3 linked regions of the Homo sapiens genome follow. The main gene of each other region encodes a partner of the protein of the gene in region 3 in a complex. Each region holds a gene or a part of one and is shown on either strand. Other genes may lie near its edges.

The links.
Region 1: NME1 (region 3) and ANP32A share a complex: the UniProt entries of both Homo sapiens proteins name them as parts of the SET complex.
Region 2: NME1 (region 3) and TREX1 share a complex: the UniProt entries of both Homo sapiens proteins name them as parts of the SET complex.

What each region holds. Positions count from the first base shown.
Region 1 is NC_000015.10:68,814,177-68,824,759, forward strand, and holds the start of ANP32A (acidic leucine-rich nuclear phosphoprotein 32 family member A), read right to left. Parts: upstream 6,720-10,583; 5' UTR 6,576-6,719; coding exon 6,522-6,575; intron 1-6,521. UniProt on the Homo sapiens protein: Multifunctional protein that is involved in the regulation of many processes including tumor suppression, apoptosis, cell cycle progression or transcription. Promotes apoptosis by favouring the activation of caspase-9/CASP9 and allowing apoptosome formation.
Region 2 is NC_000003.12:48,461,060-48,471,163, reverse strand, and holds TREX1 (three-prime repair exonuclease 1), read right to left. Parts: upstream 4,935-10,104; 5' UTR 4,855-4,934; exon of another isoform or gene 4,535-4,854; 5' UTR 4,509-4,534; coding exon 3,564-4,508; 3' UTR 3,519-3,563; downstream 1-3,518. Other genes in the region: SHISA5 (protein shisa-5 isoform a precursor), read left to right, coding at 1,321-1,436, 1,591-1,803, 1,978-2,057; ATRIP (ATR-interacting protein), read right to left, coding at 5,610-5,677, 6,081-6,333, 6,502-6,582, 7,032-7,123, 7,283-7,419. UniProt on the Homo sapiens protein: Major cellular 3'-to-5' DNA exonuclease which digests single-stranded DNA (ssDNA) and double-stranded DNA (dsDNA) with mismatched 3' termini. Prevents cell-intrinsic initiation of autoimmunity.
Region 3 is NC_000017.11:51,149,157-51,160,277, forward strand, and holds the start of NME1 (nucleoside diphosphate kinase A), read left to right. Parts: upstream 1-4,402; 5' UTR 4,403-4,506; intron 4,507-5,068; exon of another isoform or gene 5,069-5,217; coding exon of another isoform or gene 5,218-5,288; intron 5,289-6,494; coding exon of another isoform or gene 6,495-6,498; coding exon 6,499-6,624; intron 6,625-10,823; coding exon 10,824-10,925; intron 10,926-11,121. Other genes in the region: NME1-NME2 protein, read left to right, coding at 6,499-6,624, 10,824-10,925. UniProt on the Homo sapiens protein: Major role in the synthesis of nucleoside triphosphates other than ATP. The ATP gamma phosphate is transferred to the NDP beta phosphate via a ping-pong mechanism, using a phosphorylated active-site intermediate.

The sequences.
Region 1 (10,583 bases), on a different chromosome or scaffold from region 3:
GTTTTTTATTTCAATGTGATGTAATTAATTTGGACCCAAGCTCTGGGATGGACAGCTCTGAAAGCTCAAGCAGATGTCTTTCCAATGGTATTGAAGAAGGGGGCCAGGCACGCTGGCTCACACCTGTAATCCCAGCGCTTTGGGATGCCAAGGTGGGCAGATCACTTGAGTCCAGGAGTTTGAGACCAGCCTGGGCAACACGGCAAAACCCCGTCTCTACAAAAATTATAAAATAAATAAATAAAAAAGGAAACAAGTCTCATACTGCTATGGGGAAAGAAAAAAAAAAAGAAAGATGGCCAACTGTGTAAGTCTAGAGTAAGCCACCTTGAGAGGCTGGTGGTGCAGCAGCAGCAGGAAAGAGGGAATTGGGGCTGTGGTGTGCTGTCATAACACAGGCTGCTGTTATGGGGACTAGGATTTGTCCCCTTGAATTTATCTCCTCCTCCCCTTGACCTGGCCAATTTTATAACCATTCCTTCCGTTCATTAGCTCAGGCACAAGACGCTAGAGGGAAAAACTTCTGAAACTCAAAGCCACTATGCTGCTGGTTCATTCCCCAGGAAACACGCATGGTAGAAAAGCAGCAGGCCAAAAACTAGAGATTCCAGGATTATCTGTCATTTTCAAAGATCTGGGCTCTGAAAGGCTGATGTGAGCCACTGGGTGCACAGCTGCCCCGCCTTTGGTTCAAGCCTCAAAGCTCTAACCGTTGCAACCCAAAGCTCTTTCTATCTCTGAGATGACATCTAGAACCTAAGAGTGACCATTCAACTACAAGATACACAGAAGGCTTTGACATGTTCTGAGTACACAACGAAGAATTTCAGCTGGCTATACAGAACTCTAGACGAGAAGTGCTTCATACTAAACCAGTAACAAGGATAATTTCTCTTCCTATGGAGGTTCCTGGGTTGAGGCTGATTTCCACTAGGCACCAATTACTTACAGGGCACAGAACACATAAAAGGACTTAAAAAGACCCTGAGAGTACCACCCAAATATATGGCTTGCCATTTGCTTAAACAAAGCAAAACACTAGATCCCTGGGGCCCACCCTCCAATCTACTGAACCACCTTTTCAGCAAACCTCTTCTGCAAAGGGGGCAGATAGTAAACTTTATCAAGAGCCAAAATTAAGAACACTACATAGGGACTTTTATAACAAGAGAAAAATCTAACACATTTCCACAATTCTTTTATTGATAAAGTTCAGAATATATTGAGTACAATTTTTTTTTTGTAACGAGATCTGTTAACGAGACAAGTGGATTTCTTATTTTTTGGGAGAATAACATTTCAAGTCATTGGGATTCAAAGAGTGTTCCATACCATCAAATTGACTGCAACGTTTATATGTACAAATAATTCTTAGCTCATGACTGTACAAAAATTGGGAGCTCAGTTATAGTTTGGTGATTGCTGTGGTACTCCTGTGATTGGGGTGGAGCCCAGGAATCTGCATTTTACATGCCTCTCACGTGATTCTGGTAATGGGCCATGGACCCAATGGACTATCCAATCCTCGGAATCTCTGTCCACCAAAGGGGCCTGTGGTTTTGCAGTGCGAGAACCCGGCTGTGCCACCTACCAGTTGCTCAACCTCTCCAAAAATCAGATGATTCATCCTCACAACAGGGGTGGCATTGCACTGCTTGGCCTACCCTTAAAGAGTTGCTGGGATGATTAAGTGAGATGATCCATGAGGTGCTATGAGCATACTATGTCCCAGATACTAAAGACATGCCAGTTATGTTGAGTTTTTTTGGCTGCAGATGCAGACTGCCTGAGCAGCTCCTGCTTGTCTTCTCCTTACTCAAAATGTGTCCCCCAGCACCTTGAAGGCCAGATCCACTTCAACCTAACCCACTGTGATGTGCTAAAGCAAACTCAGTGCAAGGCTTCATAAAATGATAATCCACAGCCCCTGGTCCTGAACCTCCTGGCCCTCTAATATCTCCAACCAGGATGCTATCCACTCTTCATTTCAGCGTCTTCAATAATAGAAAACTCATTCTCTTTCTACGGTGGCACCACTCCAAAGCTGGAGAAGAAAAAGCTCTTCCTTACAGTATCTTAAGAAAAAAAGGGTGTTTCAAAGGAGGCAGTAGAGTGTAGAGGTTGAGTATGCAGACTGGCTGAGTTTGAATCCTGGTTCTGCCACTCACTGGTCACATGATAACCCCTGTATGCCTCAATTTCCATATGCACAATGACGATGATAATAATAATACCTACCTCATAGTGCTGTTGTGGGGACTAAATTAGTTGATACATGTAATCCACTTAAGAAATGTGCCAGACACAGCGTGGTTGCTATGTAAGCACTAGCTAATATTGTTATTATCCTAAACCATGGAGGAGCTCAAAGTAATGCCTGGAAGCACCCTGATATGTCTCCGAGACTAAAACTGTCATATAGACAGCATATACTGAGGGCCATATCAAACCAATTTTGTCATCATTTACTGATTAAATAGGATTATTCCGTTTTACAGGTGAAGAAACAAAGCTTCAAAAAGGTAGGTTAAGCTCACCAGCCCAAGGTCACAAGGGCAGGTAAACGTATCCTACCTCCTTGTGGCAGGAGGAATTCAAACCCAGGTCTGTGTAATTCCTAAGCCCATCTTCATCATGGAGCCCCTCAGACTCGAAACTACTATCAGCAGCAGAACTCAACTGACTATGACCACAGGGGAACTCAGGCTCAATTTTCTGCCTGCGAGTTCCTGGTTGGCTTGCATAAACTGTAGTTAATATCATGCTACTTGAACCCAATTAGGCAGTAAGTCAGCCTGGAAAACATCATGCGATGTATTCCAAAGGTCAAAGTAAAAGCTGGCTTCCAAGGCAGCCTCTGCTGGACACTGCCATGAAAGTTAGTTTCTGCACAGATACCAGAGTTCAGCTCGTGAGGTGCTTAACCAGCACCTATATCGGCTTTTTAAAATTCTCAGAGATGCCAGCATCGGAGGACCCGACGCGACGAATTGCCTGGCTCCTAAGTCAACATCCGGAGAAAGGCGGTTTACTTTTTTCAAAAGCAAACCTTCATCCCTCTCTTTCGCTTTAGGATCTCATTACTATTGTAGCTGCCTTCTCCCAGGCAAAAATAAAAGGGGGAAGGAGCAGGTTTAGACCGAGGAGGAGGGTTCCCCTAGCCTGCAGGGCGCTGCAACATCCACCTGAAACACGGAGCTCGACCTACCTTCCCGGAGAGCCCAGCCCGGGAGGGCGTTTCCCCAACGGATCGACAACTCTTCCCTCCCGGGGAACAGGCTGCTGTCCTTGGCTTCAGTCAGGGCCACTAGAGTCGCGTGCGCGACACCCCTCACCCCCGCCAAAAGAACCTCATGTTTAATGTTCCCCTTACTCTATCACTTCCGCCGAAAGAGCAAACACCAGAGCGATCGGTTAGTCCTTAAGGCCACATTTAACTACGTCTGAGCGCCTGCAGGAGGAACGGCGAAACCCCGGAGAGGAGGCGGGGGAGGCAGGGAGCGCGTGGGGGGGGGCATTTGCACAGAGGATCGTCGTCCTCCCGGCGCCGCGGCCGCCGTGACTCTCCAGCACAGCCTCAGGCCGTTGGCGCGGGGCGGAAACCCCCATCGGGGCTCATAGCACAACTGGGGGTCCCCAAAGCCGGCTCCCCCTGCCTCCTCCGCGCGGGAGGCCGTCGGGGTGATGGCGCAAGACTCCGCTCCCCCCGCCCCCCACAGCGACAACAGCCACGGTGACAAAATGGCAGCCCGGCGCCCGGCAGTCGTGCCACAGGCGCGCAGGGCCCTGGAGGCGGCTCCTGCCCCCCAGTAACGCCTCGGCGCCCTTCGGGCTCAGCCCCGAGTGGGCCTAGCCGTTAAAAAAAATAAATAAATAAAAATAAATAAATAAAACACCTGGAACTCAAAACCAGCCTAGAAAGCCACAAGGCCGGCCCCGCGCGTACTGCACCCCCGCCGCCCGCCTGCCAGCGCCCCGCGCCACATGGAGCCCGGAGCCCGCATTCCGAGCCCTGCGCCCCGCGCCGGGGAGGAGGGGCGGGGCGTGCGGCGCGAGCCCCGGGAAACATGGCTGCTCGTCCTATTTCGGCGTCGCGGCATGGCCACCAGCTCCCGGAGCCCAGTTGGGAGAGGTGCCGAAGGTGGGTGTGTGGGGGGCCCAGGGGCAGCGCGGCGGGGAGGGGCGCAGGGGGCGCGCTCCGGGAGCCATTTGTCTTAAGAACGTTTAAAAAAATACAGTTCCTCCTCCCCCAACCCTTTTGTCCCTCTTTCGCTAGCTTTCTCCCCCTCCCCCGCAAATGTGCAGAAAGTGCCCCCTCCTCCGCCACCCGCGCCCCACCCCGCCTCCAGGCAGGGGGCAGGCGTGTGGGCCGCGAGGCTGGGAGGCGAGGGGGCGAAGCGTGAGAAATCGCTCCCAGTACGGCGCGGTGCGCTCCCCTCCCCAACACACACACACACTCGTGGAAGTTTAAAGAGCCGGTTCGACCCGCTTTCCTGCTTGCTCCCGGGGGGCCGGCAGCGTCGGTCGGGTTCGCCAGGCCAGCCGCGCCCCCGCACCCACCCGCGGCGACCCCGGCCCCGCGCTTGGCGCCCTTCCCCCTCCGCGCAGGGGGCTTCCGGAAAGTACGCGGGAAGACCGCGGCCCCGGCCCCCTCCCCCATCACCACACCCAGCCCCCAAACGCTAGGCGCCGGGTCCCGGCCGGGACGAAAGCGGCCGGAGAGAGGCAAACCGCCCGCAAATAGTGCGCGGAAACTCCGGCCTCCACCGGCGGCGCCCCCTCCTCTCCCGCGGCCGCCCCCTCCCCGCCCTGCGCGCCATAAGGCACTCGCACGTCTCCAGTCCACAGCTGCGTTAAGGCGGGGAGGGGGTAGACAAAAAGGATCTTGTTTTCAAAAGTCTCACTCAGGTTTGGGGGAGGAACTAGGGAAAAGAGGAAGCGAGGCCTGCCTTCGCCGGGATTCGGGTTTAACGGGCTAGAGGGGCGACAGGCCAGCGCACGGTGCTGCCCAAACTCCCAACTCCATGGAGCTCGGGCCACCGAGACTGGGGGCGTCCTCCCGCCAGCGCGTCCCCGGTCCCCCCAAGGGGCCAAGAGGGGAGCTGGCCAGGGTCTCCGCCCCAGAGCCGCCAACTCGCCGAAAACACTCAGGTTTGAAAGCGAGAGGGAGGCAGAAATAAAAACCAGCGTTCGAGTCACCCACCCTCACCTTCCCCCTCCTCAGGGGTAAGCTTTCGCTCGAGCCTCGCGATTCCCACCCGTGTAAGTTTCCTCCGGCCGTGCTCCCGCCGCTGCCCAATCAATAACGGCGGCTAGCGGGCAAACTCCCATCCTAGAGCTGCGTGTTTGCCATGCCCGCATAAACGTGGACCCAGCCAGTACCCACCACGGGCGCCAGCTCCGGGCAGCTCGCGTCCTGACAAAGTTTCCCGTGCCCATTTATTAAGCAGGCGCCGAATGGCTGCCGACAAGCCCAGCACTGAGAAAGACGGGCCGGGGGTTCGAGCTGGGGGGCACCAGGGCCCAAAGGCTGGCATCTTGGGGAAGCCGGAAGGAGCTGGGGCGAGGGGGCACCGGGACGTAGCCTTTGGGCAACTTGCACCAGCGATCGCTGGAGGCAGGGAGACGCGGGGATTATCTGTGCCTTAGCACGTTCGAAAATCCCTCCCCCTCCTTCTAATTTATCCTCCCTTCGGAAGGAAAGGAAGAAACATCAGCATCTGGCCCGAAGGTGGGGTGGAAAGAGTGAGGGAGAAAGAGGAGGAGAGGAAGGGAGGCAGAGAAAGGGAGGGAGGGAGAGAAAGGGCGCGTTCACGAACACTACAAAGTTACAAATATGGCTCCCCCGTCTCTCGCCTCATCACTGCAAAGAAATGAAGACGCACTTTAAACTCCAGCCATTCCCAACTCCGCTGCAGCCCCCTCCCCACGCGCTCTCCCCGGGGGCCTCGGCCCACATTTATCAGAAACTAAACCGGACTCGCGAAGCCCCAAACTTATTGTGTGTGCGAGCGAGCGAGCGAGAGAAAGGGAGGGGGGAGGCGCGGGAGGGGGGCGGAAGGGGGGATACATTTATAAAATGTAAAACCCCCTTTTTTTGTTGTTAAATCCAGGAGGCAGCCCCTCTCCTCCTCCTCCCTCGTTAATCTTCCCCCCAGACGGAGTCACGGGAGCAGCGATCTCCGAGGGTGATTTCGCCTCATTCTCTCCGACCCAAACGCGTGCGCCCGCCGGCCCCCGATGGGTGCACACTCGCACGCACACTCTCGCACCCACACTCGCACACGCGGGAGCACACGCACAGGTAGTCACACACCAAGGGCAGCGGCGGCGGCAGCCGGAACATGCTCGGATGGCATTGCAACCCCCCAGCCTTGCCAATTCGCTTGCAGTCCGACCCCCAAACCCGCACCTCCCGGGCGCCCCCCCCCAAAAAAAGTGCCTCCCCCCAGCGCGCACACACACACACACACACAAAGTAGGAGAATGGACCGACAGAGATATTTTTGGCAAATGCTCACATCAGAGGGCGTCCTGTTCCGCAGCTCTAAATGAATCCGTCTGCCCATCTCCATCTCTCGCGCTCTCTCTCTGCAGAGGCTCCCGCGCCGGCGGAATTCAATCAATAAACCCCGAACCCACGGCCGCGCGTTTTAGGACTTTGAAGGCTCAACCAGCTCCGCTCGGTTCTCGAGCCCCCAGCACCCGCGGCGCACACTAACCTGATCGCCGTGGAGGCGGGATCTGCGGCCCCATGGACGAGCGGCAGCGGCCCGAGCCAATCGCCGCCGAGGGTCTCCGGGCAACAGCCAATGGCAGTGGCGGCGGGGGGGGGAAGGGACCAATGGGCGGGCTGCGCAGCCGGCCAGGGAGGCTCGGCCATTTGGTAGTGGTGCCGGAGACGGACCCCTTTAGATTTCGGGGCGGCTGAGGAGCGCGGCGGCTGCTCTGTGGCTGAGTGAGGGGGGTGGGCGGAATGGCGGGGGAAGGGAAGGTGACTGTGCCTCGAGGGCCGAGCCGCCCGGCCTTGCCAGCCAGCCGCCGCCTCAGCGTTCGGCCGGGGGCGGGGCCGCAGGTGCGTTCTGCGAGGGGGAGGGGCGCGGCCGGAGGGGTCGGGTCGGGGTCCCCGCCCGGCCGAGGGCTTCGCGGGGCGGCGCGACGGGGTTGCGGAAGGAGGCGGGCGGCTTGAGGTCCGGGGACCGCGGGCTGCCCAGCGGGAGGGCAGATGAAAGGCCTGGAAGGAGGAGAGGGGTCAGGGTGCAATGCCGGGAGGGGCTCGTCGGGTCCCGGGTCCGGCGGCTCGCGCTGGGGAGCGTGGCTGCCCCCGTCACCCCCACCGCGGCTGCCCAGCAGCCCGCGCGCCCCTTCCCCTCCGGCCTCGTCCCTGTCAGGCCGCCACCATCGCCACCCTCGTATACATAAGTCAGTAAAAGCAAGATGCTTCCACTTTTGGATGACTTACCGCGCGGTCGCGACCCTTCCCACGAAGAGGCTTTTCACTTTGCTGTCATATTAGGTCAGCTTGGAAGAAGTGATCACCAAGAGACACCCAAGATCTTGTTTAGGCAATAAATGAATGAAGACCATGGATTAAGAACCGTTGCTAGATATGTAGAATATTAAAAGGTGGAAAAGGAAGGTGCTCATAACTCCTGGTTTTCTGGACCAAACATAATTTCTGGGCTTTATAGACCTAGTGAAAGAGAACGGCGCACGGTTTATTCTAATCGTCCACCTGAGTCATTCGGTTCGGTTTGGGTTGCCAAGGAGGCTCTAACTGGAGCCCTTTCTCCTGGTTTTTCGGCGTGGTTGCCTTGGGTATTTTTGAATCACATTAAGTTTTAAGAGACCTTAAAGCCCCGATGCCCACTGGGTTACCGACTTACGGCACTAAGTTGGCTGCCTGTGGCTGTTAATAAACCACGGGGATTGTTGTCAACGAGGACAGATACATCCTTACCTTTCCACACGACTGTATTTTAGTGTTTGTTTCTACATGTCTGCACTCTTCCCCACACGCCTCAAGGTAGTTTTTCTGGATACATATGTTTATTTTTCAGGAACAGGAGTTCAAAGGAGAGATAAGCCAGTATGTATGTTGCAAAGTTAAAATACTGTTGCATAATAGCAATCCAGTTTCATTCTTAGACATACGAAGTTGAGGAGGAAATAAAAAGTGACAATGTAAATAAAACACATACAGAATGCTTACACTGGGGAAGAAGCTGTAGTAACTTTAATATTGCAACCTGATGGATTGCAAGTGTAAAGCCCTGCAACTAAGGATTTTACTCAGTAAATTCTTTCAGATAAAATGATAAATGGAATTTGAAGTCTGATGTTTACTCTGATTAGGTGGGAAATGCACCATAAAAGTTAGAAGTCATTGTTTTATTTTATCTGGGTATAAATAGTATAATTTATTTAACTTGTTGACTTGCCTGTCATCCTCAGATTTTGTTAATCTTATTGAAGCCTATTTGTATAGTTGGAATTTATTCTAAGTTTTATTGGCTTCTTTGTAATACATGAGGAACCCCAAATTTCCTATTTATGCCATTGAGACAGTTGTTATTTCTGGATATGGTGTTTAGGATTGTATTCAAACAGAACTCTTATCAAAACAGGTCAATATGGTGTGTATGATCTGTGTAACATAGGAGTCCTGAAGTTTGTGTTCTCTTTGATGGTAAATGTTCATTTTCAATTTAAAAGTTTAACCACAGTTAAGACCACGCTGCTAGCAATGCAATATGAGACAGTGTCTTTCCAGAGGAGTAATCCCTTAAAAACCAACCAATCAAATGCAGAGATATGCCCCATCCAGCTTTGCTAAATAGAAGCAAATAGCTCACTTTATTGTACAAAGACTCAAGAGGAAGACTTAGAAGCCCACCCCCTCCCCCATTAAAGAGAAAGTACAGAAACAAATTAGAATCGAAAAAATCATGGCCTGATTACTAAATCAAAACGTTAAATGTGACAGTTGTTTTTAGAAGCATCTTACATTTATACATTTTGATGACTTTTGTATTAATGTTAGAAAATTGAAAGAAGGCTTCACTGGATGTCAGTCGTTACAGAAATTGAAATATCCAAAAGTATATGTATAACCAATTGAGTAATTTCCGCTTTCCTTACACACTTGAAATAAATTTTCTTTTGCTTTTACAAATAGATCTATATGTAAGAAAATTTTCATATGATTTTGCTTTTTTATTATTAAAAAAGGAATATAGTAAAGCCAAAGCTGAGCTGTATTTGCCCCACACAACATGACCAAATATAAAAAAAACCACTGCTCTTACAAATATCTTATTTTACAAAGTTGTTTTTTAAATTACATTTTATTGTATATTATAATAGTAAATAAGTGTTCTAAGTGGCACTGCATTTCAGAAAATATAGAAAGAAATCCCATATCAAGGAATCTTGGCTGAATTTTGAAACGGAGTTGGGAACAGGTAAGAGTTCCTATCTACTGAGTAATTCTACAACAGGAATTGTGTTTGAAAGATGTAGAGTCTCTAACCTCTGAAACTAGGTTTGAGTCACACTGAGAAGAATAAATGAGATACAATTCAAAGTTTAACCCCCTAGAGAGATAGATGGCCCAGGAAGGAAAGATCTTCCCGCCTTCCAGAATATCCTCCATCAAGAACCATTCCAAATAAATGAGCAGCCTATTTTGTTCTCAAAGACATGAACAATGAGTGTCCTTAGGCTCTTTTGAAATGTGTAGGAGAGTACTGTTTTACAAATAACCATATCGTTACTATTGCCATTTTATTAGGTTGGTGCAAAAGTAATTACCATTTTTTTTAAAAAAGGCAAAACCACAATTACTTTTGCACCAATAGCACATTTGCCCTTGTTTGGTCTCTAAAGATGGAGACCCTTTGGTTAGCATCCTTTTTATGAGTCAAGCTAATATACCCACAGCTCAACTTTTTGTTCTTGAGCTTGAATCACATCACTGGCAATCGGCCGTAGTACTCTCTTACCTACATCATGGTTCTGCTGCTTGGACCCCAAAGACAATGACATGGAAAAACTCCAGCTTAATTATGTTCTTTTTTGTTTGTATATGTAAATAGTTTTTAGGAATGTAGATTATTATTTTGAAATCTGTGGTAACAAATGTGAAAACCACTACATTTTATTTATTTTCATTGAATAGCAAATAATGTTGAAGCCTGGGATCTAAAAAGTTAAATATTATTTTATTTTGCTTAATAAAGTATTGGATAATTTAGAAAAAGAATTTTTTTTTAATGATTGGATAGTTACCTTATTAATGGATTGGTCAGGGAGAAAAAGCCCTGTTGGATGAAAACTGTCATATATGTGACTTTTAAAGTGAAATTAATAAGCCAGGCATGGTGATGTTCCCCTGTAGGCCCAGCTACTTGGGAGGCTGAAGTGAAAGGATCACTTGAGCCCAAGAGTTCAAGAACAGCTCGGACAACATAGCAAGACCTGTTTCTCTAAAAACAAAAAACAGTAAAAATCTTAAAAACCGCTTAAAGATGGTTGGTTTCTTTTAAAAAGGAAAAAAAGGCTCAGGTGCAGTGGCTCACGCC
Region 2 (10,104 bases), on a different chromosome or scaffold from region 3:
TCCAGCTACTGGGGAGGCTGAGGTGGGAGAATCACTTGAGCCTGGGAGGTGGAGGCTGCAGTGAACTGTGATCATATCACTGCACTCCAGCCTGGGCAACAGAGTGAGACCCTGTCTCAAAAAATAAATTAAAAAAGAAAAAGAATGAAGCTTGGCCTCTGCAAACACGGCAGGGTGGCTAGTAAGGGGCTCTGTCTGCATTTGGAAGTCAGGTTTTTTTTTTTTTCTTTCATTTTTGAGACAGAGTTTTGCTCCTGTCCCCAGGCTGGAGTGCAATGGCGTGATCTTGGCTGAATGCAACCTCTGCCTCTCGGGTTCAAGCGATTCTCCTGCCTCAGCCTCCCAAGTAGCTGGGATTACAGGCACCCGCCACCGTGCCCGACTAATTTTTGTATTTTTAGTAGAGACAGGGTTTCACCATGTTGGCCAGGCTGGTCTCGAACACCTCACCTCAGGTGATCCGCCCTCCTCGGCCTCCCAAAGTGCTGAGATTGCAGGCATGAGCCACTGCCCCCTCCTAGAAGTCAATTTTGGTGAGCTTCCCAGCCCAGGGCCTGCTTTCTCAAAGGGCAGGCCCTCTGGCCTCCTGCCTCCAGGCCTCTGTGTCCTCCCCTTGGCTCTTGGCCCTCTCACCTGTGGAAGTGGCCATGCAGGTCAGAGGTGGGGGACCCAGGGGTGTGTGTGACCCCTGGCACGGTGCTTGGCATACAGCAAGCTTGCAGGCAGAGGCAACTGTCCTTATCACTCAGGGGCCAGCCTCCCTGCCCTGGGGCTGTTGTGGAGTGCAGGGGAACAATGGGGGCCTCCTGTTCTGGCCACACTGGCCTCTGCCCTCCTGGGGCTTCTCTCAGTCTTCACCCTGTGCTTTGTGAGCCATGTTATCTTCACTGTCTGCCTCCTACACTGGACTGTGGGCTCCCAGAGGCCAGGGCTGGCTGTCTTGCCCACTGTTAAGTTTTTTGACTCAAATCACAGTGCCTGGCTTGTGGCATGTGCCCTATACCCATCTGCTGATCAGTTGGTTGTGAGGTGGACAAGATAGATGTATGTGTGTGGCATGGGACTTGAAGAGCTTCCTCCCATGCCTCTGAGGGTGGGACAAGCGGGGGAGACCCAGGGAGAGACAGTTACAGGGACTCACATATACCCCAGTTTACACAAGAGGAAACAGATTGAAACAGGTGCAGGCCACCCGACAAGGAAGTAGCTATAACTGTATTGCCCAGACCCCTTCTGGCAAGAGGGGCATGCCTTGGGAAGGTGTGGATGCTGGTCTGGGGAGGGGCGAGGTGCCCCGGGTCACGTCTAGCTCTTTGGCAGGTTCGGAGCGACCTTGGCCGTTGGCCTGACCATCTTTGTGCTGTCTGTCGTCACTATCATCATCTGCTTCACCTGCTCCTGCTGCTGCCTTTACAAGACGTGCCGCCGACCACGTCGTAAGCGTGCCCACCCTGCCCCACTGTGACCCCCTGGGGTGGTAAGGGAAGCTGACCAGGCCCTGCTTTGGCTAAGCTGGAGGGATGGGTGGCAAGCCTGGCTCTCAAGACCTGGGGAGATGGAGGAGGGTCCTGACTGGAATTCTCTTTGCAGCGGTTGTCACCACCACCACATCCACCACTGTGGTGCATGCCCCTTATCCTCAGCCTCCAAGTGTGCCGCCCAGCTACCCTGGACCAAGCTACCAGGGCTACCACACCATGCCGCCTCAGCCAGGGATGCCAGCAGCACCCTACCCAATGCAGTACCCACCACCTTACCCAGCCCAGCCCATGGGCCCACCGGCCTACCACGAGACCCTGGCTGGTGAGTGCCCCTGCCAACTCTAGCCCTGCCCGACTTCCCGAGTCTCTGCCAGCATCCCTCGGGCACCCATCCCAAACTACATCACTCAACAGGCCTCTGCCCCTTTCTGCTTGCCTGCCACTCACACGGCAGCCCACCATGCTCACAGCCAACCAGGGTCCTCTCTGCTTTCAGGAGGAGCAGCCGCGCCCTACCCCGCCAGCCAGCCTCCTTACAACCCGGCCTACATGGATGCCCCGAAGGCGGCCCTCTGAGCATTCCCTGGCCTCTCTGGCTGCCACTTGGTTATGTTGTGTGTGTGCGTGAGTGGTGTGCAGGCGCGGTTCCTTACGCCCCATGTGTGCTGTGTGTGTCCAGGCACGGTTCCTTACGCCCCATGTGTGCTGTGTGTGTCCTGCCTGTATATGTGGCTTCCTCTGATGCTGACAAGGTGGGGAACAATCCTTGCCAGAGTGGGCTGGGACCAGACTTTGTTCTCTTCCTCACCTGAAATTATGCTTCCTAAAATCTCAAGCCAAACTCAAAGAATGGGGTGGTGGGGGGCACCCTGTGAGGTGGCCCCTGAGAGGTGGGGGCCTCTCCAGGGCACATCTGGAGTTCTTCTCCAGCTTACCCTAGGGTGACCAAGTAGGGCCTGTCACACCAGGGTGGCGCAGCTTTCTGTGTGATGCAGATGTGTCCTGGTTTCGGCAGCGTAGCCAGCTGCTGCTTGAGGCCATGGCTCGTCCCCGGAGTTGGGGGTACCCGTTGCAGAGCCAGGGACATGATGCAGGCGAAGCTTGGGATCTGGCCAAGTTGGACTTTGATCCTTTGGGCAGATGTCCCATTGCTCCCTGGAGCCTGTCATGCCTGTTGGGGATCAGGCAGCCTCCTGATGCCAGAACACCTCAGGCAGAGCCCTACTCAGCTGTACCTGTCTGCCTGGACTGTCCCCTGTCCCCGCATCTCCCCTGGGACCAGCTGGAGGGCCACATGCACACACAGCCTAGCTGCCCCCAGGGAGCTCTGCTGCCCTTGCTGGCCCTGCCCTTCCCACAGGTGAGCAGGGCTCCTGTCCACCAGCACACTCAGTTCTCTTCCCTGCAGTGTTTTCATTTTATTTTAGCCAAACATTTTGCCTGTTTTCTGTTTCAAACATGATAGTTGATATGAGACTGAAACCCCTGGGTTGTGGAGGGAAATTGGCTCAGAGATGGACAACCTGGCAACTGTGAGTCCCTGCTTCCCGACACCAGCCTCATGGAATATGCAACAACTCCTGTACCCCAGTCCACGGTGTTCTGGCAGCAGGGACACCTGGGCCAATGGGCCATCTGGACCAAAGGTGGGGTGTGGGGCCCTGGATGGCAGCTCTGGCCCAGACATGAATACCTCGTGTTCCTCCTCCCTCTATTACTGTTTCACCAGAGCTGTCTTAGCTCAAATCTGTTGTGTTTCTGAGTCTAGGGTCTGTACACTTGTTTATAATAAATGCAATCGTTTGGAGCTGCTGCCCCCTTTCTTCCTGGCCTCGGCTGCTGGAATTGGAATCAGGCTGTACTCTTTCCATCCATTTGGGCTTCTCTGTGTTTTCCCTACTTTTACTGGGCTCAGATAGTTGACCATCCTGCTAGGGAAAGTGAGGGACAAACACTGTGCCCTCCTCCCCAGGTCCCTGGGTGTGGGCAGAGGTCTGTGCTGCCAAGAAGGGTAGGAGCCAATTGACCACTCAGTGCTATGGGGCAGCGGGGGTCTTTATTCGTCAGATTTTCCTTCTTGGCCTACTCCCCAGGTGTGGCCAGGGATAGTCCATACAGTGTGGCTACTGCCAAGGTCAGGATGGCCAGCAGACCCAGTGGGGCCAGCAGCCCCTCCCTGGATAGGGCTCCAGGGTCCTTCACTGGAGGAAGATCCTTGGTACCCCTGCTCTCTCCAAGGCTGGGACTAGTGTTCCTGGTTGTGGCCAGGTGTGCAGTGGTTGTGACAGCAGATGGTCTTGGCTTGGTCCTAGCAGAGGCTGTGACCCCATACATGGGCCTGATGGTGCCGAAAGGCCTGGCGTGAGCATCCACCCACCGCAGCAGGGCCTGTGGTCTCCACTGACAGATGCTGAGCAGGGCCAGGACATCACCCTCAGCCGTGTGCGAGTCTGGAGGGGACTGCCCATACAGGCGAGTGTAGATGCTGCCTAGGCTATAGCTCTTCCTTGGGCCGTGTTCTGAGGGGCTGCTTGCTCGCTCCAGGGCCTTCAGCGCAGTGATGCTATCCACACAGAAGGCACCATCCAGAGCACTGGTGAGGCCCAGCATAGCCAGCTCTGCTTGGAGCAGGGGGAAGTCGTAGCGGTCACCATTGTGTGCCACCAGGCACCAGGGCTGTGGCTGGCGCCGCAGGAAGGCTAGGAGCAGGTTGGCCAGGTTGTCATCAAAACATTGACGCCCATGCGCTGCCAGCACAGCTGTGCTCAGACCTGTGATCTCGCTGGCTGCAGGGCTGCAGGCCTTCCCCGGAGCCACACACAGGGAGAGCTTGTCTACCACACGCGGTGGTGGAGGAACTGTGGGAGGTGGCCCCTGAGAGGTGGGGGGGCTCTCCAGGGCACATCTGTGGACAGCCAGCAGGCACAGCTCCGTGACCTTGGGCTGGGAGAAGGGCAAGCCAGTGGCCTCCATGTCGAAAAAGATGAGGGTCTGCATGGGCCCCGGGGGCAGGGCCTGCGAGCCCATGGTTGGGTACGTACCTGCTGCTGAGCCTGGAGAGGAGCATGGGGTGGGTGTGTGAGTGCCCAGTGTTAAGATCCGAAGGGGAGGGAGTGGGGTAGGGGGTGGGCAGAAGCACATCTCAGGCCTTCCCTGCACAATCCTGCCCTGTCTGCGAGCTCCAGGGCCCATTTTCAGGCAGGAAGTTGGAGAGGGTGAGGTGGTTTCCTTAGTGGGACCAGCACATTCGACTGTCTGAGAGGGTCTCCCTCTTCACATGACTCGGCCCCTCCCCTAGTGCCCCCTTAGTCTGGGGTGGGGGAACCCATGGCCCTCCTGCCCTGCGCCATCCCATTGTGGGGGCCACACTCACCGTAGCAGGCAGGCAGGCAGGCAGTAGTGACTCGGCTGCACACTCTCCCGCGGCTCTCGCTGGCAGCAGTGGCGGGAAGTGAAACTTGGCGTGGGCCCGCCTACAGGCCCACGTGAGCCAGGCCCGCCCTGCTCGTCAGCCTGCCTGGTCTGTCCCTCTCACCACCATCCGTTCCCCCCCACACCCACTCCCCTGCTCCCGGGGGACCCCAGAGGCCTTCCAAGATCCACAGCTGTGGCCTGCTGGTGGCACAATGCACCGGGGCCATCATACCAGTGACAGGCAGCTGGAAGGACCAGGGCAGTGGTGCCAGACCAGCTCCCGGTCTTACACACTGCTGGGAGCCCCTGCTGCGGCCCTTTCATGCCCACCTGTGGGTCCCAGTTTCCCAGGCTTTCCTGGTTTAGGCCTGGGCCAAGAGCCACCTCCTTCCCTGCCACACAATGGTTTCTTCCCATGGCCCCAGCCCAAAGCAATGACTCAGGACAATTCCACAGGCAGGGCAGGGCTCCTTCCTCAAGGCAGATCAGTTACCATGGGGACGGGCTCAGCAACAGCCAGGGACAGGAAGAAGGATCCCAGCCACTCAGGGTCCGGGTCCTGCTCCACCCCTCCCACTCCGCCAAACAGATCAGACTCAGGAAACAAGGCCAGCCAGTTCTCTGGGCAGTTCCTGCTGGTCACTGCTTTAATCAGTTGATGTGGTAAGGAAAGGAGTGGTGCTGGTGCCACCATGTGGCTGGACACTCAGGGCCTCAGCCACACTCCACCTCGGGGTCTTCCACATCGGTTTCCGCGGCACAGAGGTCATCCAGGGCTGCCTCTGAGACAAAAAGGAGAGGTTCCTGGTGAGGGCCCAAAGGTGCCAGGGCCTAGGGCAGGTCCCACCTCTCCTCCCCCAACGTCCGCAGGAACTAACCAGTCCCTTCCACACCCAGGCCCTGCTCCCTCAGCTACTGCAAACAAAGTGATACAAAGGCAATTCAGACACGGCTATTTCTGGAAAAACCGTGGCTCTGCCAGGCACACTCAACAGATAGATGCAAAAGGCATCCCAATATGCTTGGAGAAGAACTGAGGCAGGAAGATAAAAGAAAATGGCCCCAGTGCTGGAACAGGCTGCAGTGGGCGGGGGCCTGCTGAGGGGACACCCAGGAATCTGACTTGTTGGGGAACCTCTGGAAGAAGCCATGGGGGCTGGGCAGGATGGCCTCTGGCAGGCTTACCTTCACAGTCCGTCACATCAGGAAGCCCTCGGATGAGCATGCTGACCCCCGGCATCACCTGGTCAAACTGATGCAGGACCTCCACGCAGTGCATCATGAAGAGCTTGTCCTTCTGCGATAGGCCGTGCAGCAGCAGCACCGTGTCCCGCAGACAGCGCACTGTCCGCCTCTGCTGGTCGGTCCTTGGGGGTCCCCCTGCCCTCCGCACTGTCAGCCACTGTCTGTGCAACATCACCGTGAGCGCTCTGACCACCTGAGAGAGGGGGGGTGCAGACTGAGGCCTGGTGCCACCATGGCCTGCACCCTAACAATCCGCTCAGCCTAGCCACCTCACGTGAGGGGGTTTGCAGTGGGGCCTACAGTCCTTGCACGGGGCCCCCTTACCACCAGAGCTGCCAGCTGTTGGCCCCTACCCACTCACCTCCACATTACACTGGCAGTTGGAGCCAGTGACTGGGGGCAAGGGGCTCTGCACACCAAGCTTAGCCAGGAGCCACACCACCTAGAACAAGAACAGATTGGTTCCATCCTGGGCAGAAGGAGACCAGTCCCTGCGAGGGTTTTCTTAAGCTTCTATAAGAGTTCACTTGCTTCAGCAACTGTTTGTCTGCACAAATGGGGTCCAAGAAGTGGTGTGGGACCTTCCCAGGGAAGACCCAGGACAAGCACTCATGTGTCACCAGCAACCCACCTGCCTCCAGCCCCCTATTCTGCCCCCACGTCCCAAAGCCAAGACAGGATCAGTCATCAGGCAACTCTGCCAAGTCCTGTCTGCATTGCATCTGTGTGGTGCACAGCCCCCAAACTGAGTTTACCTCTTTAGTTGCTTTATCAACTCTTGTTACTAAAATGAATTAAAGCTCCGTTTCTCCTCAGCGGAAAGAAAGGAGATTCTGTTGGTTCTTAGGATGGGGTGGGGACAGTGTCCAGAAGGGGCTCTGGAGTTTTTACCTCTTGTTCCAGCTGGAGCCATTGTGTCTCCAAGGCCACTCTGTCAGGCCGTGATGTGATGTACATGTACAGCAGCAGCAGGAGGCAGCCTTCTGAAAAGGACAGCGCACCTCTCACTCAGGGTGCCCTTTCTCATAAAGAGCGTGGGCTACATACTGCAGAAGCCCTCTGAGGCCCTTGACCCTGTTCCCACCCCAACCCTTCCCTTGATCTGCAGGAGCAGTCTAGACGCCCGCCCCACCCTGCTTTACCTGAGTGGGAACAGAGCTGAGGTGCCAGCTGGTCGTGGTCCGCCAGCAGGGAGAGGAGCTCAACAGCCAGCAGCACGCTAGGCAGGGGTGTCTCTGGGCTGAGGCACTTTGGCAGCACTTGGAACACACACTGGAACCTAAAAGACAGGGACCCAGAGAGACGTGACACTCCCCAACCCCAGCTCCATAACCTACCTTCACACTCCACTAGAGGTAACAGAAAATTGAGCAAGTCAGTATGAACAGGTGAGTTGGTTCAGCCAGACTTGGGTTTCAGTGCTGGCCTGACCCCTACTTACTTGCTATGAAACTTGTTTCATGTGAACAAGTGGGCACTTCCACTGCAAGACTGCTGCAGCTGAGAGGACAGGCCCTTATCTGGTGTAGCATCGCCCAGGAAGTGGGATGACCTCCTGGATCTGGGATGCCTGGCTTCCACATGCTCCCAAACAGGGATGCAGGTCCTAACTTAGGTGGGAGAGAAATGTTCTGTGCCCACAGAAGGACTGACCAGGCCTCCAGAGGTGACAAACATGGCCTTGGCTATGGCTGGATCTTATGAGACCTCTCACAGGGCAAGGAAAGCCATTTTCTCTACTTGCCAGAAAACACATCTGCTGCCAGTGGGAGAATGTGCCTACTGTGGGGTGTGCAGGAGGGAGGGGTTCTGGGCATACTGCCCCAGGTCTCAGGGGCAAAAGGAAAGCTATTACCCCAATAAACCAAGCCCCAAGGCAACTGCTGCTGTTTGCTCAACCCACATAGCCTGGGGGAGCACGATGGACTGGCCTGGTGGGTGGGGAGGAGGGCAATTCTGAAACACTCTATGGGGTCTGGCCAGGTGTGTACCCCTTCAGACATCTGCAGTTTCTAAGCACAGAAGGTCAAGATATCCCTCAGTGTGTCCTTAGGAAGCAAGGTCTCACTATGTGGGGTGAACTCACTTTAGGGCAAATCCTGCACAGCAGACAAAAAGTTCAATGCTTTTTAGTTGCCAGGGTGTGCAGCCCTTTGTGGGAAGCTGGAATTTTAACATGGTTATTACCTGGTTTCATTATTGGGCTGTAAGATGTCCAATATCTGCCACTTGCAGAAGGTACTGCAAGGAAAATCCACTTTTATGTACACCACAGTGGTTTCCAAGTTATTTTTTGATAGCGTTAAGAACTTTTTTTTTTTGAAACTGAGTCTCGCTCTGTCACCCAGGCTGGAGTGCAGTGGCGCAAACTCAGCTCACTGCAACCTCCGCCTCCAGGGTTCAAGCGATTCTCCTGCCTCAGCCTCCCGAGTAGCTGGGACTACAGGTGCCTGCCACCACGCCCAGCTACTTTTTTGTATTTTTAGTAGAGACGGGGTTTCACCATGTTAGCCAGGATGGTCTCGATCTCCTGACCTCGTGATCCACCCACCTCGGCTTCCTAAAGTGCTGGGATTACAGGCGTGAGCCACCATGCCCAGCCCCTAAGAACCTCTTTAAATGAAATTTTATGAAGAGCCCCAGTACATGAAATAGATAAATGCCCAGCTGTGGCTGTGTTTTGAATGTCCCTGTGGACAAGCTCAACAGGAGTGGAATAATGGTGTGTCTACCACCAGTAAAAACATGGTTTCTGGGATTCTTTGAGATAGGGTCTCACTCTGTCACCTAGGCTGGAGTGCAGTGGCATGGTCATAGCTCACTGCCACCATGCCTGGCTAATTAAAAAAAAAAAAATTGTAGAGCTGGGAGTCTTGCTTTGTTGCCCACGCTGGTCTCAAACTCCTGGGCTCAAGTGATCCTCCCACCTTGGCCTCCCAAAGTGCTGAGATTACAGGCAGGAGCCACTGTGCCCAGCCTGGGATTCATTCATTTAACAATTATTAAACAAATAACCAAGGCTGGGCCCGGTGGCTCACGCCTGTAATCCTTGCACTTTGGCAGGCCAAGGCAGGTGGATCACCTGAGGTCCGGCATTTGAGACAAGCCTGGCCAACATGGTGAAACCCTGTCTCTACTAAAAATATAAAAAATTAGCCAGGTGTGGTGGCAGGTGCCTGTAATCTCAGCGTCTCAGGAGGCTGAGGCAGGAGAACTGCTTGAACCTGGGAAGTGGAGGTTGCAGTGAGCCGAGATCGCACCACTGCACTCCAGCTTGGACAACAAGAGCAAAACTTCGTCTCAAAACAAAAACAAAAACAAACAAATAAACAACAACAAAAAAAAACAGCCACTATGAGCTGGGCCCCTGCTGGGCACTTGAGTCCTGAGTCTGCCTGATCCCACTGCCCACACTACACTGCAGTGCTGTGTCCAGCTGAGTACCACCTTTAGCATGGGCCAGACCAACCAAAAATATTCAGATGGAAACAGATCTAGGAAACAGCAGTGCTGAGCTCAGAGATGAGATGATTTAAGATATATTCAGCCAGTGGAATCATTCCAACATAGAAACTGACCCTTTGGTAGAGTGCTGAGGGAGACTGGATTACTGGATGAGGGGGTGGGCTGGTTGTGTTCACAGTTCTCCCCAATCTTGCGGCTCTGGAATCCCAAGGGAGGAATTTATGATCACAGTGTTCATTCGCTAGGTTCACTATAATATACTACCCACAAACCTTAAGAAGAACAGGCCACCCCAGATGCATGCTAAAGATGGGCACAATGACAGGCAGAGACTCCCAGCAAGGTCAGCCCGTGGGCTGCAGACCCTCTCCACATCCTCTGCTTCCTTAGGGAAACCACTAAACTTCAACGTGCTTGTGATGTGTGGTCTTCACCTTACCCACATCTCAGGTTCAGAGGCCCCTTGTCTTAACCCTTGTCCTGGGGCAGGGCCCTCCTC
Region 3 (11,121 bases):
GCCTGGCAACAAAGGGAGACTCCGTCTGAAAAAAAAAAAAAAAAAAAAAGTAAAGGAATAAAAGAATGTCTACTCTACAGGCAGAGGGGTTATTTCTTGATTATATGCTAAACAAGGGTGGATTGTTTGTGAGTTTTCTGGGAAAGGGATGGGCAATTTCCCCTCTCCCCCAGTTGAGTGCTCCTCCCCTTTGTAGACCATATAGGGTAACTTCTGGTTGTTTCCATGGCATCTGTAAACTGTCATGGTGCTGATGGGAGTGTCTTTTAGCATGTGAATCCATTATAGTTAGCATATAATGAGCAGTGAGGGTGACCAGAGGTCACTTTTGTTGCCATCTTGGTTTTGGTGGGATTTGACCGGCTTCTTTACCACTGTTTGATCACCAAGGTCTTTGTAATCTGTGTCTCATGTTGATCTTTTTTTTTTTTTTTGAGGCGGAGGTTTGTTCTGTTGCTCAGGCTGGAGTGCAGTGGTGCGATCTCAGCTCGCTGCAACCTCTACCTTCTGGGTTCAAACAATTCTGCCTCAGCCTCCCAAGTACCTGGGACTACAGGCGCGCGCCACCACGCCGGGCTAATTTTTGTATTTTTAGTAGAGACAGAGTTTCACCACGTTGGCCAGGCTGGTCTCGAACTCCTGATCTCAGGTAATCCACCCACCTCAGCCTCCCAAAGTGCTGGGATTACAGGCATGAGCCACCGTGCCCAGCCCTTGTGTCGATCTTCTATCTCATCCTGTGACTAAGAATGGCTAGCCTCCTGGGAATGCAGCCCAGTAGGTCTAAGCCTCTTTTTACCCAGCCCCTATTTAAGATGGAGTTGCTCTGGTTCGAAAGCCTCTGACAGTATCTTATTATACTGTGTAGGCTGGTCTTGAGCTCCTGGCTTCAAGAGATCCTCTTGCCTCAGCCTCCCAAAGTGGTGGGATTACAGGTGAGAGCCACCATACCTGGCCCTTTCCCTCATCTCTAATTCCTGGCAACCACTAAACTAGTCTATCCTCTATGTCTATACTTTTGTTATTAATATTTCACAAATGTTAAATGCAATAATACAATAGATAACTTTTTATGTTTGGCTTTTCTTCAGTCAGCATAATTCCCTTGAAATCTATCCAAGGGAATTATGTATATTGCATGTATTAATAGTTTGTTATTTTTTTCTATTGTTGAGTAGCATTCCACAGTATGGATGTAGCATAGTTTGTTTAACCATTCACATGATGAAAGACATTTGGGTTGTTTCCAGTTTTTGGTTATTACAAATAAAGCTGCAATGAACATTTGCGCACAGGTTTTTGTGTGAACAGAGCATAAGTTTTCATTCCTGTTGGATAAACGCCCAACAGTGCAATGGCTGGGTCATATGGTAAGCACATGTTTAGTTTTTTAAGAAACTATCGGCCGGGCGCGGTGGCTCACGCCTGTAATCCCAGCACTTTGGGAGGCCGAGACGGGCGGATCACGAGGTCAGGAGATCGAGACCATCCTGGCTAACACGGTGAAACCCCGTCTCTACTAAAAATACAAAAATTAGCCGGGCATGGTAGCGCGCCCCTGTAGTCCCAGCTACACGGGAGGCTGAGGCAGGAGAATGGCGTGAACCCGGGAGGCGGAGCTTGCAGTGAGTCGAGATCGCGCCACTGCACTCCAGCCTGGGCGACAGAGCGAAACTCCGTCTCAAAAAAAAAAAAAAAAAAAAAAAAAGAAACTATCAAACTTTTTCAGAGTGGCTGTACAATTTTATATTCCTACCAGTAATGTGGATCCAGTTTCTATACCTCCTTAATAGCGTTTGGTGTATCACTACTTTCATTTTAGCATTCTGATAGGCATGTAGTAATATCCGATTTTGGTTTTAGTTTGAATTTCCCTGGTGGCTAATGATGTTGAACATCTTTTCATGTGCTTTCTTGCCTCTGTATATCCTGTTCAATGAAATGTCTATTCATGTCTTTTGCCCATTTTCTAATTGGATTTTTTTAACCTGTTGAGCGTTCAGAGTTCTTCAAATATTCAAACCTTCAAATGAAGAGAAGGCCTTTATCTGATATGTGGTTTGGAAATATTTCCTTCCACTCTAGCTTGTTTTTTCGTCCTCTTCAAAAGGTCTTTCACAGGACAAAGGTTTTAAATTTCTTTTCTGCAGGGCACAGTGGCTCACGCCTATAATCCCAGCACTCTGTGAGGCCAAGGTGGGCGGATCACCTGAGGTCAGGAGTTTGAGACCAGCCTGGCCAACATGGTGAAACCCCGTCTCTACTAAAAATACAAAAATTAGCCGGGCGTGGTGGTGCACGCCTGTAGTCCCAGCTACTCGGGAGGCTGAGGCAGGAGAATCACTTGAACGTGGGAGGCAGAGGTTGCAGTGAGCTGAGATCCGCCAAGGCACTCCAGCCTGGGTGACAGAGCAAGACTGCATCTCAATAAATAAATAAACAAATAAATAAATAAAGGCCGAGCACGGTGGCTCATGCCTGTAATCCCTGCACTTTGGTAGGCCGAGGCAGATGGAACACTTGAGGTCAGGAGTTCGATACCAGCCTGGCCAGCATAGTGAAAACCCGTCTCTACTAAAAATACAAAAATTAGGGCCAGGCGCGGTGGCTCATGCCTGTAATCTCAGCACTTTGGGAGGCTGAGGCGGGCGGATCACGAGGTCAAGAGTTTGAGACCAACCTGGCCAACATGGTGAAACCCCGTCTCTCCTAAAAATACAAAAAGTAGCCGGGTGTGGTGGTGGGCACCTGTAATCCCAGCTGCTCGGGAGGCTGGGGCAGGAGATTCGCTTGAACCCGGGAGGCGGAGGTTGCAGTGAGCCGAGATCGCACCACTGCACTCCACCCTGGGCGACCTGGCAAGGCTCCGTCTCAAAAAAAAAAAAAAAAAAAGAAAAAGAAAATACCGGGCGTGGTGGCAGACGCCTGTAGTCCCAGCTACGCGGGAAGCTGAGTCACGAGAATCGCTTGAACCCGGATGGCGGAGTTTGCAATGAACCGACATCGTGCAACTGCGCTCCGGCCTGGGCGCCAAAGCGATACTCGGTCTCAAAAAGAAAAAAAAGAAAACAGGAGAATAATGAAATTTTACTTATTTATTTTATTTATTTTTTATTTTTTTGAGACCGAGTCTCGCTCTGTCACCCAGGCTGGAGTGCCCTGGCGCAATCTCGGCTCACTGCAACCTCTGCCTCCCGGGTTCAAGCGATTCTCCTGCCTCAGCCTCCCGAGTAGCTGGGACTACAGGCGCCTGCAACCACGCCCGGCTCATTTTTGTATGTTTAGTAGAGACGGGGTTTCACTATGTTGCCCGGGCTGGTCTCGAATTCCTGAGCTCAAGTGATCCTCCCGCCGCTGCTTTCCAGCGTGCTGGGATTACAGGCGTGAGCCACCGCGCTCGGCCAAAAGTTTTAAATTTCAGTAAGTTCCAATTTATCAACTTTTTCCCTGTATAGATTGGTCTTTTGGTGTCGTCTAAAAACTATTTGCCTGGCCCTAGGTCCTGAGGATTTTTTTTAACTTTTTTTTTCCCCATAAGTGATTTATTGTTTTACATTTAAATCTATGATTCATTTTGAGTAAATTTTGTATAAGGTGAGAGGTTTAGGTTGAGGTTCTTTGGGTCTATATTCGTCCAATTGCTCCAGCATCATTTGTTGAAACGGCTCCTGATTCCATTTTTGTACCTTTCCCCCGTTCATTTCCCCTTAGAGCAGTGGGAATGTTTTTTTGTTAGTGATGATGTCATGCCTTGTGCAAAATCTGTATTAGCATCTCACAACATAAGATTTGGCTCTATTCTAACGGCATTTTCCACCACTCGATGTCCACCGTAATACTTGGCTCTCGAAGAATCACTGGGCTGGCTCCCTCACTTCATGCAGGTCTATTCTATTATCACTTACTCAGAGATTTCTCTGGCCTTTTCTTCACAGCACTTACAAAATGCGATCTATTACATATTAATTTGCTTATTTGCTTCTTGTTTTCCTATACTCCCATCCCTCCCAGAAGCTCCAAGAGAGCATACTGTTTTATCCCTAGGGCCTAGAATAATGCGTCCACGTAGTAGGTACTCAAAATTTTTTGCTTGACAGGCTAGAAAAGGTGAATAAACACAAAGCGGGAGCGAAAAGTCTACTTCTAGGTCAGGCACTCTTTGGACTTCACGCAACGTGTGAGCGCCACCTCTCGGGAAGCCAATTTGCTCGCGAACGAAGGAAGTGAGTCAGAGAACCCGGGGGTGGAGAGAAGAAAGCAAGCAGCTAACCGGAAAGGTCTGAAAAAGCTAGCGCCGGAAGTTAAACTGCAGAAAGTTGTTCCCTAGAATGACTGCCTACTCCCAAGAGGAAGCGTGGGCGAGCGGTGTTCTGCAAAATGGGCTCTCCGGCAGCGGATCTGCGCAGAAGCGTTCCGTGCGTGCAAGTGCTGCGAACCACGTGGGTCCCGGGCGCGTTTCGGGTGCTGGCGGCTGCAGCCGGAGTTCAAACCTAAGCAGCTGGAAGGGTAAGAGGTGTTCGGGATCCTGAGAGGAAAAAGAAAGGAGTGTAGTCGCGGGAGTGGGTTAGGTGAGGAGTTAGTGAAGAGATGAGTTCAGCTCTAAGAGGCGGCGAGGAGGATCGGATGGGAGGAGGGGCAGGGAGCGCCTGTGGACAAGTGCAGACCGGTCGGCGCACGTCCCACGCCACGTGGACTCGCCTTTGTCGGTGGCCGCCTTTCTCGTCAGGCCGCGACGACAGGGCTGTGCCTTATTTGTGTCTGTCGAGAGCAGTGCCGGGCACGGAGTTGGCGCTCTGTAAGTGCTTGCTGAATAAATGACGGGTGTGTGTGTCATTCATTCAGCAAGCACTGAGTGCTTACTGTTGTGTCACCGGGACCGATGTGGAGGGACATTTTTAGGGTGTATTTCTGGCGCTTTAGTCCTGTTTTCTCCTGGACAATTTATGCTTGCCCCGCACCCCATCGTGCGATTCTCCGCAGTCTTTGGGCTTTGTCTCTCTCTCTTTTTTTTTTTTTGGAAGTTGCAGAATGGTGATAAATGATTTTCTTTGCTCCTATTGACTGCTAGGCCCTGTGGCTAGGTACCATAGAGTCTCTACACAGGACTAAGTCAGCCTGGTGTGCAGGGGAGGCAGACACACAAACAGAAAATTGGACTACAGTGCTAAGATGCTGTAAGAAGAGGTTAACTAAAGGACAGGAAGATGGGGCCAAGAGATGGTGCTACTGTCTACTTTAGGGATCGTCTTTCAAGGCGAGGGGCCTCCTATCTCAAGCTGTGATACAGGGTAGGTCATGAGCGCAGTCTTCTGTAAAATGAGGGATCTGGACGGAATAGTTACTCTCTAGGCTTCCTTTCAGTATGATGTCCCGTATCAGATATTCCTAATGTCTGTAGTTCTCCCACACCCCACCGTTTATTGGCTAGTCAAAATATTCTTTGCATTGTAAAGTGTAGCATAACATTACAAGAATGGATTAATGGGTTGGGAATGCTGGGTTTTGGCCTTCATTCTGGTGCTGTGGTCCTGTTTCCTCATTTGTAAAATGAAGGGGGTTGTAAAGATATATTCTCTAAAACCCCTAATGCTATGGCTGTGGCATTAAGTCAAACTATTATTTCTTACTGCTTTGTACCGGACATCACTTTCACATTAGTAAAACTTTTCATCAGTGTAGTTTCTCCCAAGCTTGATTATTGAGAAAGATAGTGCCTTGTTTTTAACATCCTGTATCCTAGTTCCACCGCAGTGTTTGGTACACAGTAGATGTTTAAAAGAAGCTTATTAAATCAAATGGTGGCCAGGCTCATGGGGCTCACGCCTTTAATCCCAGCACTTTGGGAGGCTGAGGTGGGCAGATTACTTGAGGTCAGGAGTTGGAGACCAGCCTGGCCAACATGGTGAAACCCCATCTCTAGTAAAAAAAAATACAGAAATTAGCTGGGTGTGGTGGCACGCACCTGTAGTCCCAGCTATTTAGGAGGTTGAGGTAGGAGAATTGCTTGCCTGGGAAGTGGAGGTTGCAGTGAGCCAAGGTCGCACCACTGCACTCCATCCTGGGCGAAAGAGCAAGACTCCATACCAAAAAAAAAAAAAAAAATCAAATGGGGCTGGGTGTGGTGGCTCATGGCCATAATCCCAGCACTTTGGTAGGCTGAGGTGGGCAGATCACTTGAGGACAAGAGTTCGAGACCAGCGTGGGCAACATAGCGAAACCCCATCTCTAAAAAAACCCCACAAAAACCAAAACAAATGAAAATAAAATAAATCAAATGGGATAGAAATTATAGTCCTTGCTTTTGGATCCTTTCCCACATTGACATATTAGTTCATAGATCAGGGGACTGGGGAGGAATTGGGTTTTTACCAGAGGGAGACCTGGAGCTGACCTGACAGATTTAAACCAGCTTTATGGGATAATCCGCTTGAGACGGATGACGCTGTAGGCAAGTGATTCACTGCTGTTTCATTCCTCTACCTGCCTATCCCCAGAACCATGGCCAACTGTGAGCGTACCTTCATTGCGATCAAACCAGATGGGGTCCAGCGGGGTCTTGTGGGAGAGATTATCAAGCGTTTTGAGCAGAAAGGATTCCGCCTTGTTGGTCTGAAATTCATGCAAGTAAGTGGACTTCATTGTTCCCATTTTGATTCCTTCATAGTATAGGAGAACACTGTGATTAACCTGTTTCTCCCCGTCTTTCTTATTTAAAGTTCTCCACGGTAGAGTGAACACAAGTGTCTTGAGACCTGGAAACTCCTCAGTGCCCTAGCGTTTGGCTACATCTTGGAACAAACCAAGTTATTTAGGATTTTCCAAAATAGTCTCTGTAATAGGAGGTGCATTGCTACGGGAAAAGCAGTGCAGAGTTCCACATATGACTGCATCTCTGTAATTTCTGACTGAGAGCTGAGCATGTTTGAGTTCTTGGTCTTGAGCTTCCTGAGCAGATAATTTTAGAGAGATTTTTTTCCCCCTTTGAGACAGGTTGTTTTTTAGCAAGAAAGTCTTTCCATCATCAATTACTAGACACTAATAAATGCTTATTGTTTAGCATATATTAGGTATCATAGGAGCTGGTGGAGGAAAACTATGGTTTTGGTTTTGGGGAGGTTCTTCAGAAACAGCAGAGAGCAGATGTACCTGCAAGCTACTTACAAAGCAATCTTTTGATAAATGCAAAGGATTGATTGACCAATAACCCTTCTTCAAACAAATTCTAGAGATAATCCAAATTCTCGGCTGGGTGAGGCATAGTGGCTCATACCTGTAATCCCAGCACTTTGGGAAGCCAAGGCAGGCTGGTCACTTGAGGTCAGGAGTTCAAGACCAGCCTGGCCAACATTGTGAAACCCCGTCTCTACTAAAAATACAAAAATTAGCTGGGCATCAGGGTGGGTGCCTGTAATCCCAGCTATTCGGCAGGCTGAGACATAAGAATTGCTTGAACCAGCCAGGTGCGGTGGCTCATACCTGTAATCCTAGCATTTTGGGAGGCTGAGGCGGGCGGATCACCTGAGGTCAGGAGTTCGAGACAGCCTGACCAATATGATGAAACCCCGTCTCTACTAAAAATACAAAAATTAGCCAGGCGTGGTGGCATGCGCCTGTAATCCCAGCTACTCGGGAGGCTGAGACAGGAGAATCGCTTGAACTGGGGAGGTGGAGGTTGCAGTGACCGAGATCGCATCATTGCACTCCAGCCTGTGCAACAAGAGCAAAACTCCATCTCCAAAAAAAAAAAAAAAAAAGAATTGCTTTTGAACCCAGGAGGCGGAGGTTTCAGTGAGCCGATATTGCACCACACTGCAGCCTGGGCAACAGAGGGAGGGAGACTCTGTCTCAAAAAAAAAAAAAGAATTCCAATTCTCAAATCAAATAGGGGATAGTATGTTTTCTAAAAGGGAATCAATTTTGGACCCTTCTAGTGCATTTTAAAATTTAGTTTGACTTGCAATTTACTTCCTATGTGATATTTTAGAAAAACTGCTTTAGGGCTGGCACAGTGACTCGCCTGTCATCCCAGCACTTTGGGAGGCTCCGTCTCCAAAAAAAAAGAAAAAAAAGAAAAGAAAAACTGCTTTAATGTAAAAGAGGGTAGACTGATGTTCATGCTGAGAGGAGAATATGGTGTCCAAGGTCAAGGAGCTGGCATCTAATGAAGGTTTTCTTGCTGTATCATCCCATGACAGAATGGAATAGCAAGAGAGTGCAAGAGTGAGAGAGAGCAAGAGGGGGCTGATGTTGATTTTATAACAAACCCACTCCTGAGATAAGACATTAATCTGTTCATGAGGGTGAAGCCCTCATGACCTAAACACCTCCCATTAGGCCTCACCTCCCAACATTGTTGCATCGAGGATTAAATTTCCAACATACGAACTTTGGGGGACACATTCAGATCACAGCAGAAGGTAACATGAGATGGATGTGTTGTTGATCAGGCATTTACCATATGCTGGGCACATATGTTTTCTGATTTAGTCTTCATGCCAGCCTTGAGAAGTACTTACTCCTGTTCTCGTGGTTGTTAGTGATGAGCAACCTAAGGCTTGGAGAGGTTCAGTGATGTGCCTGATAGCATACAGTGATGCCACTGGAATTTTAACTTGAGTCTCTCTGACCCCTGAGTGCAGATACTTTCTCCTTTACATTGAATTTCCTATTAAGGATATATGGGTTTGGTGAAGAATGGACGGAAGGATAGCTGCCATGACTCTAAAGGGGCATTTAAATCTGGTGTGGAGGCAGGAAGCAAGGGAGAACTTGAGGTTCCCAACCCCCAAGCCCTTAAAAAAAGCCCGTGATCTGTTTTGCAGACTAAAGATAATCAGTTAGGGCCTGGCGTGGTGGCTCACACCTGTAATCCCAGCATTTTGGGAGGTCAAGGTGGGTGGATCATCTGAGGTCAGGAGATGGAGACCAGCCTGGCCAACGTGGTGAAACCCCGTCTCTACTAAAAATACAAAATTTAGCTGGGTGTGATGGCGCATGCCTGTAGTCCCAGCTACCAGGGAGGCTGAGGCGAGAGGATGGCTTGAACTCGGGAGGTGGAGGTTGCAGTGAGCGGAGATCGAGCCACTGCACTCCAGCCTGGGTAACAGAGCAAGACCCTGTCTCAAAAAAAGATAATTAGCCGGGTGTAGTGGTGCACACCTGTAGTCCTAGCTACTGAGAATCTGAGGCAAGAGGATTGCTTGAGCCTGGGAGTTTGAGGCCGCAGTGAGCTATGATCATGCCATTGCACTCCAGCCTGGGTGACAGAAAGACCCTGTCTCAAAACAAACAACAAAACCAACAAAAAGATAATTGGAACCAATTAATAGAATTAAAAAAGTATTCTGATAAGGGAAGGTCACCTCAGGGTCTGTTAGACTTCCACAACAAAAGTCTTCCATTTGGATAGGAAAGGACAGGGCGAGGGTTGGATCCCTACCACGGAGTGATTATATGGCCATGTAATTTTACTTTGGCAAGTGATGATAACTGGTGGCTGAATGATGGGGCTTCTGGGCAGCCAGTCTCCACATCTGTGTGTGTCTCTGATGTGTGTGATATGCGTCATACAGTGCAGTACCACAGAGCTGGAAAAACCATGGGACCCTGTTAGATTTTAACAAGCGTATATGCAGTACAAGAGAGAACACAGCCAAACTGAGTTGAAACTGCTAAGCAGATGGTTTGTTCTCTAGCTAACTTGATTCGTTCCCACATATTAGCCTTGCAGTATGAGAGGTTCTAATTCATTTTTCAGCAAAATTATTTATTACTAGATGTCATGCACTTTTGGGTGATTTGCAGATACCTTTGGTAATCACATGGTCATCACTGCTGGGCTTTTATCCTCTGAATAAACGTGAAGCATCCCTGGGTAATGGCCTGGTTTAGTTTGCTGCTCATTAAATGCCAAGACTTGCTTCCTGGTGTCCTTCTAACATTTTATTTGGGGTTTGCTCTGGGAATGGAAATTTATTGTATTGTTGATTTTCCTGTCTAAAATGAGATAGTTGAGGGCCAGGCATGGTGGGTCACGCCTGTAAGCCCAGCACTTTGGGAGGCGGAGGCTGGAGGATCACTTGAGTCCAGGAGTTTGAGACCAGCCTGGGCAACATAGTGAGACCCTATCTCTACAAATAATTTTTTAAAATTAGCCAGGTATGGCTGGGCGCGGTGGCTTACGCCCGTAGTCCCGGCCCTTTGGGAGGCCAAGGCAGGCAGATCACCTGCGGTCACCTGAGACCAGCCTGGCCAACATGGCGAAACCCTGTTTCTACTAAAAATACAAAAATTGGCCAGGCATGATGGCCGCCACCTGTAATCCCAGCTACTTGGGAGGCTGAGGCAGGAGAATCACTTGAACCCAGGAGGTGGAGGTTGCAGTAAGTCAGGATCACGCCACTGCACTCCAGCCTGGGTGACAGAGGGAGACTCTGTCTCAAAATAAATAAATAAATAAATAAAATTAGCCAAGTCTGGTAGTGTGTGTCTACAGTCCTACCTACTCGGGAGTCTGAGGCAGGAGGATCACTTGAGCCCAGGAGTTTGATTTTTTTTTAAATGAGATAGCTGGATTTAATTTTAATGTTCTGTGGTTTTATTATCAGTCAGTGCCAATAGGGAGACAACTGATATAAAATTGGAGAAGTACATTTAGTCCTGTCACTGCTCCCTTCCAGTGTGGAGAATGAATTGGGTTATAACAGAATCAGTGAGCCCAACCGCTCATGTTTTACATAGCAGGGTGGATGAGGGGAAATTAAATGGATTATATGTCCTTAGATGGTTTGGGGGTTATTCTCATTCTCTGTCCTGTTGAATAGGCTTCCGAAGATCTTCTCAAGGAACACTACGTTGACCTGAAGGACCGTCCATTCTTTGCCGGCCTGGTGAAATACATGCACTCAGGGCCGGTAGTTGCCATGGTGAGTGTGCCTGTGTGGGATACTCCAAGTATGCATTGCTTGTCATCTGTGCTAGGCTCTCTTCTAGACACTGGGGATACAGCCATGAATGAGACCAAATAGATACCTGTTTTCATATACCAGCTAATGGTTAGTGATAGGCTTCAGAAATGAAATATGCCCAGAAATGAATAGGAGTAGCAAATGATCACTTTAG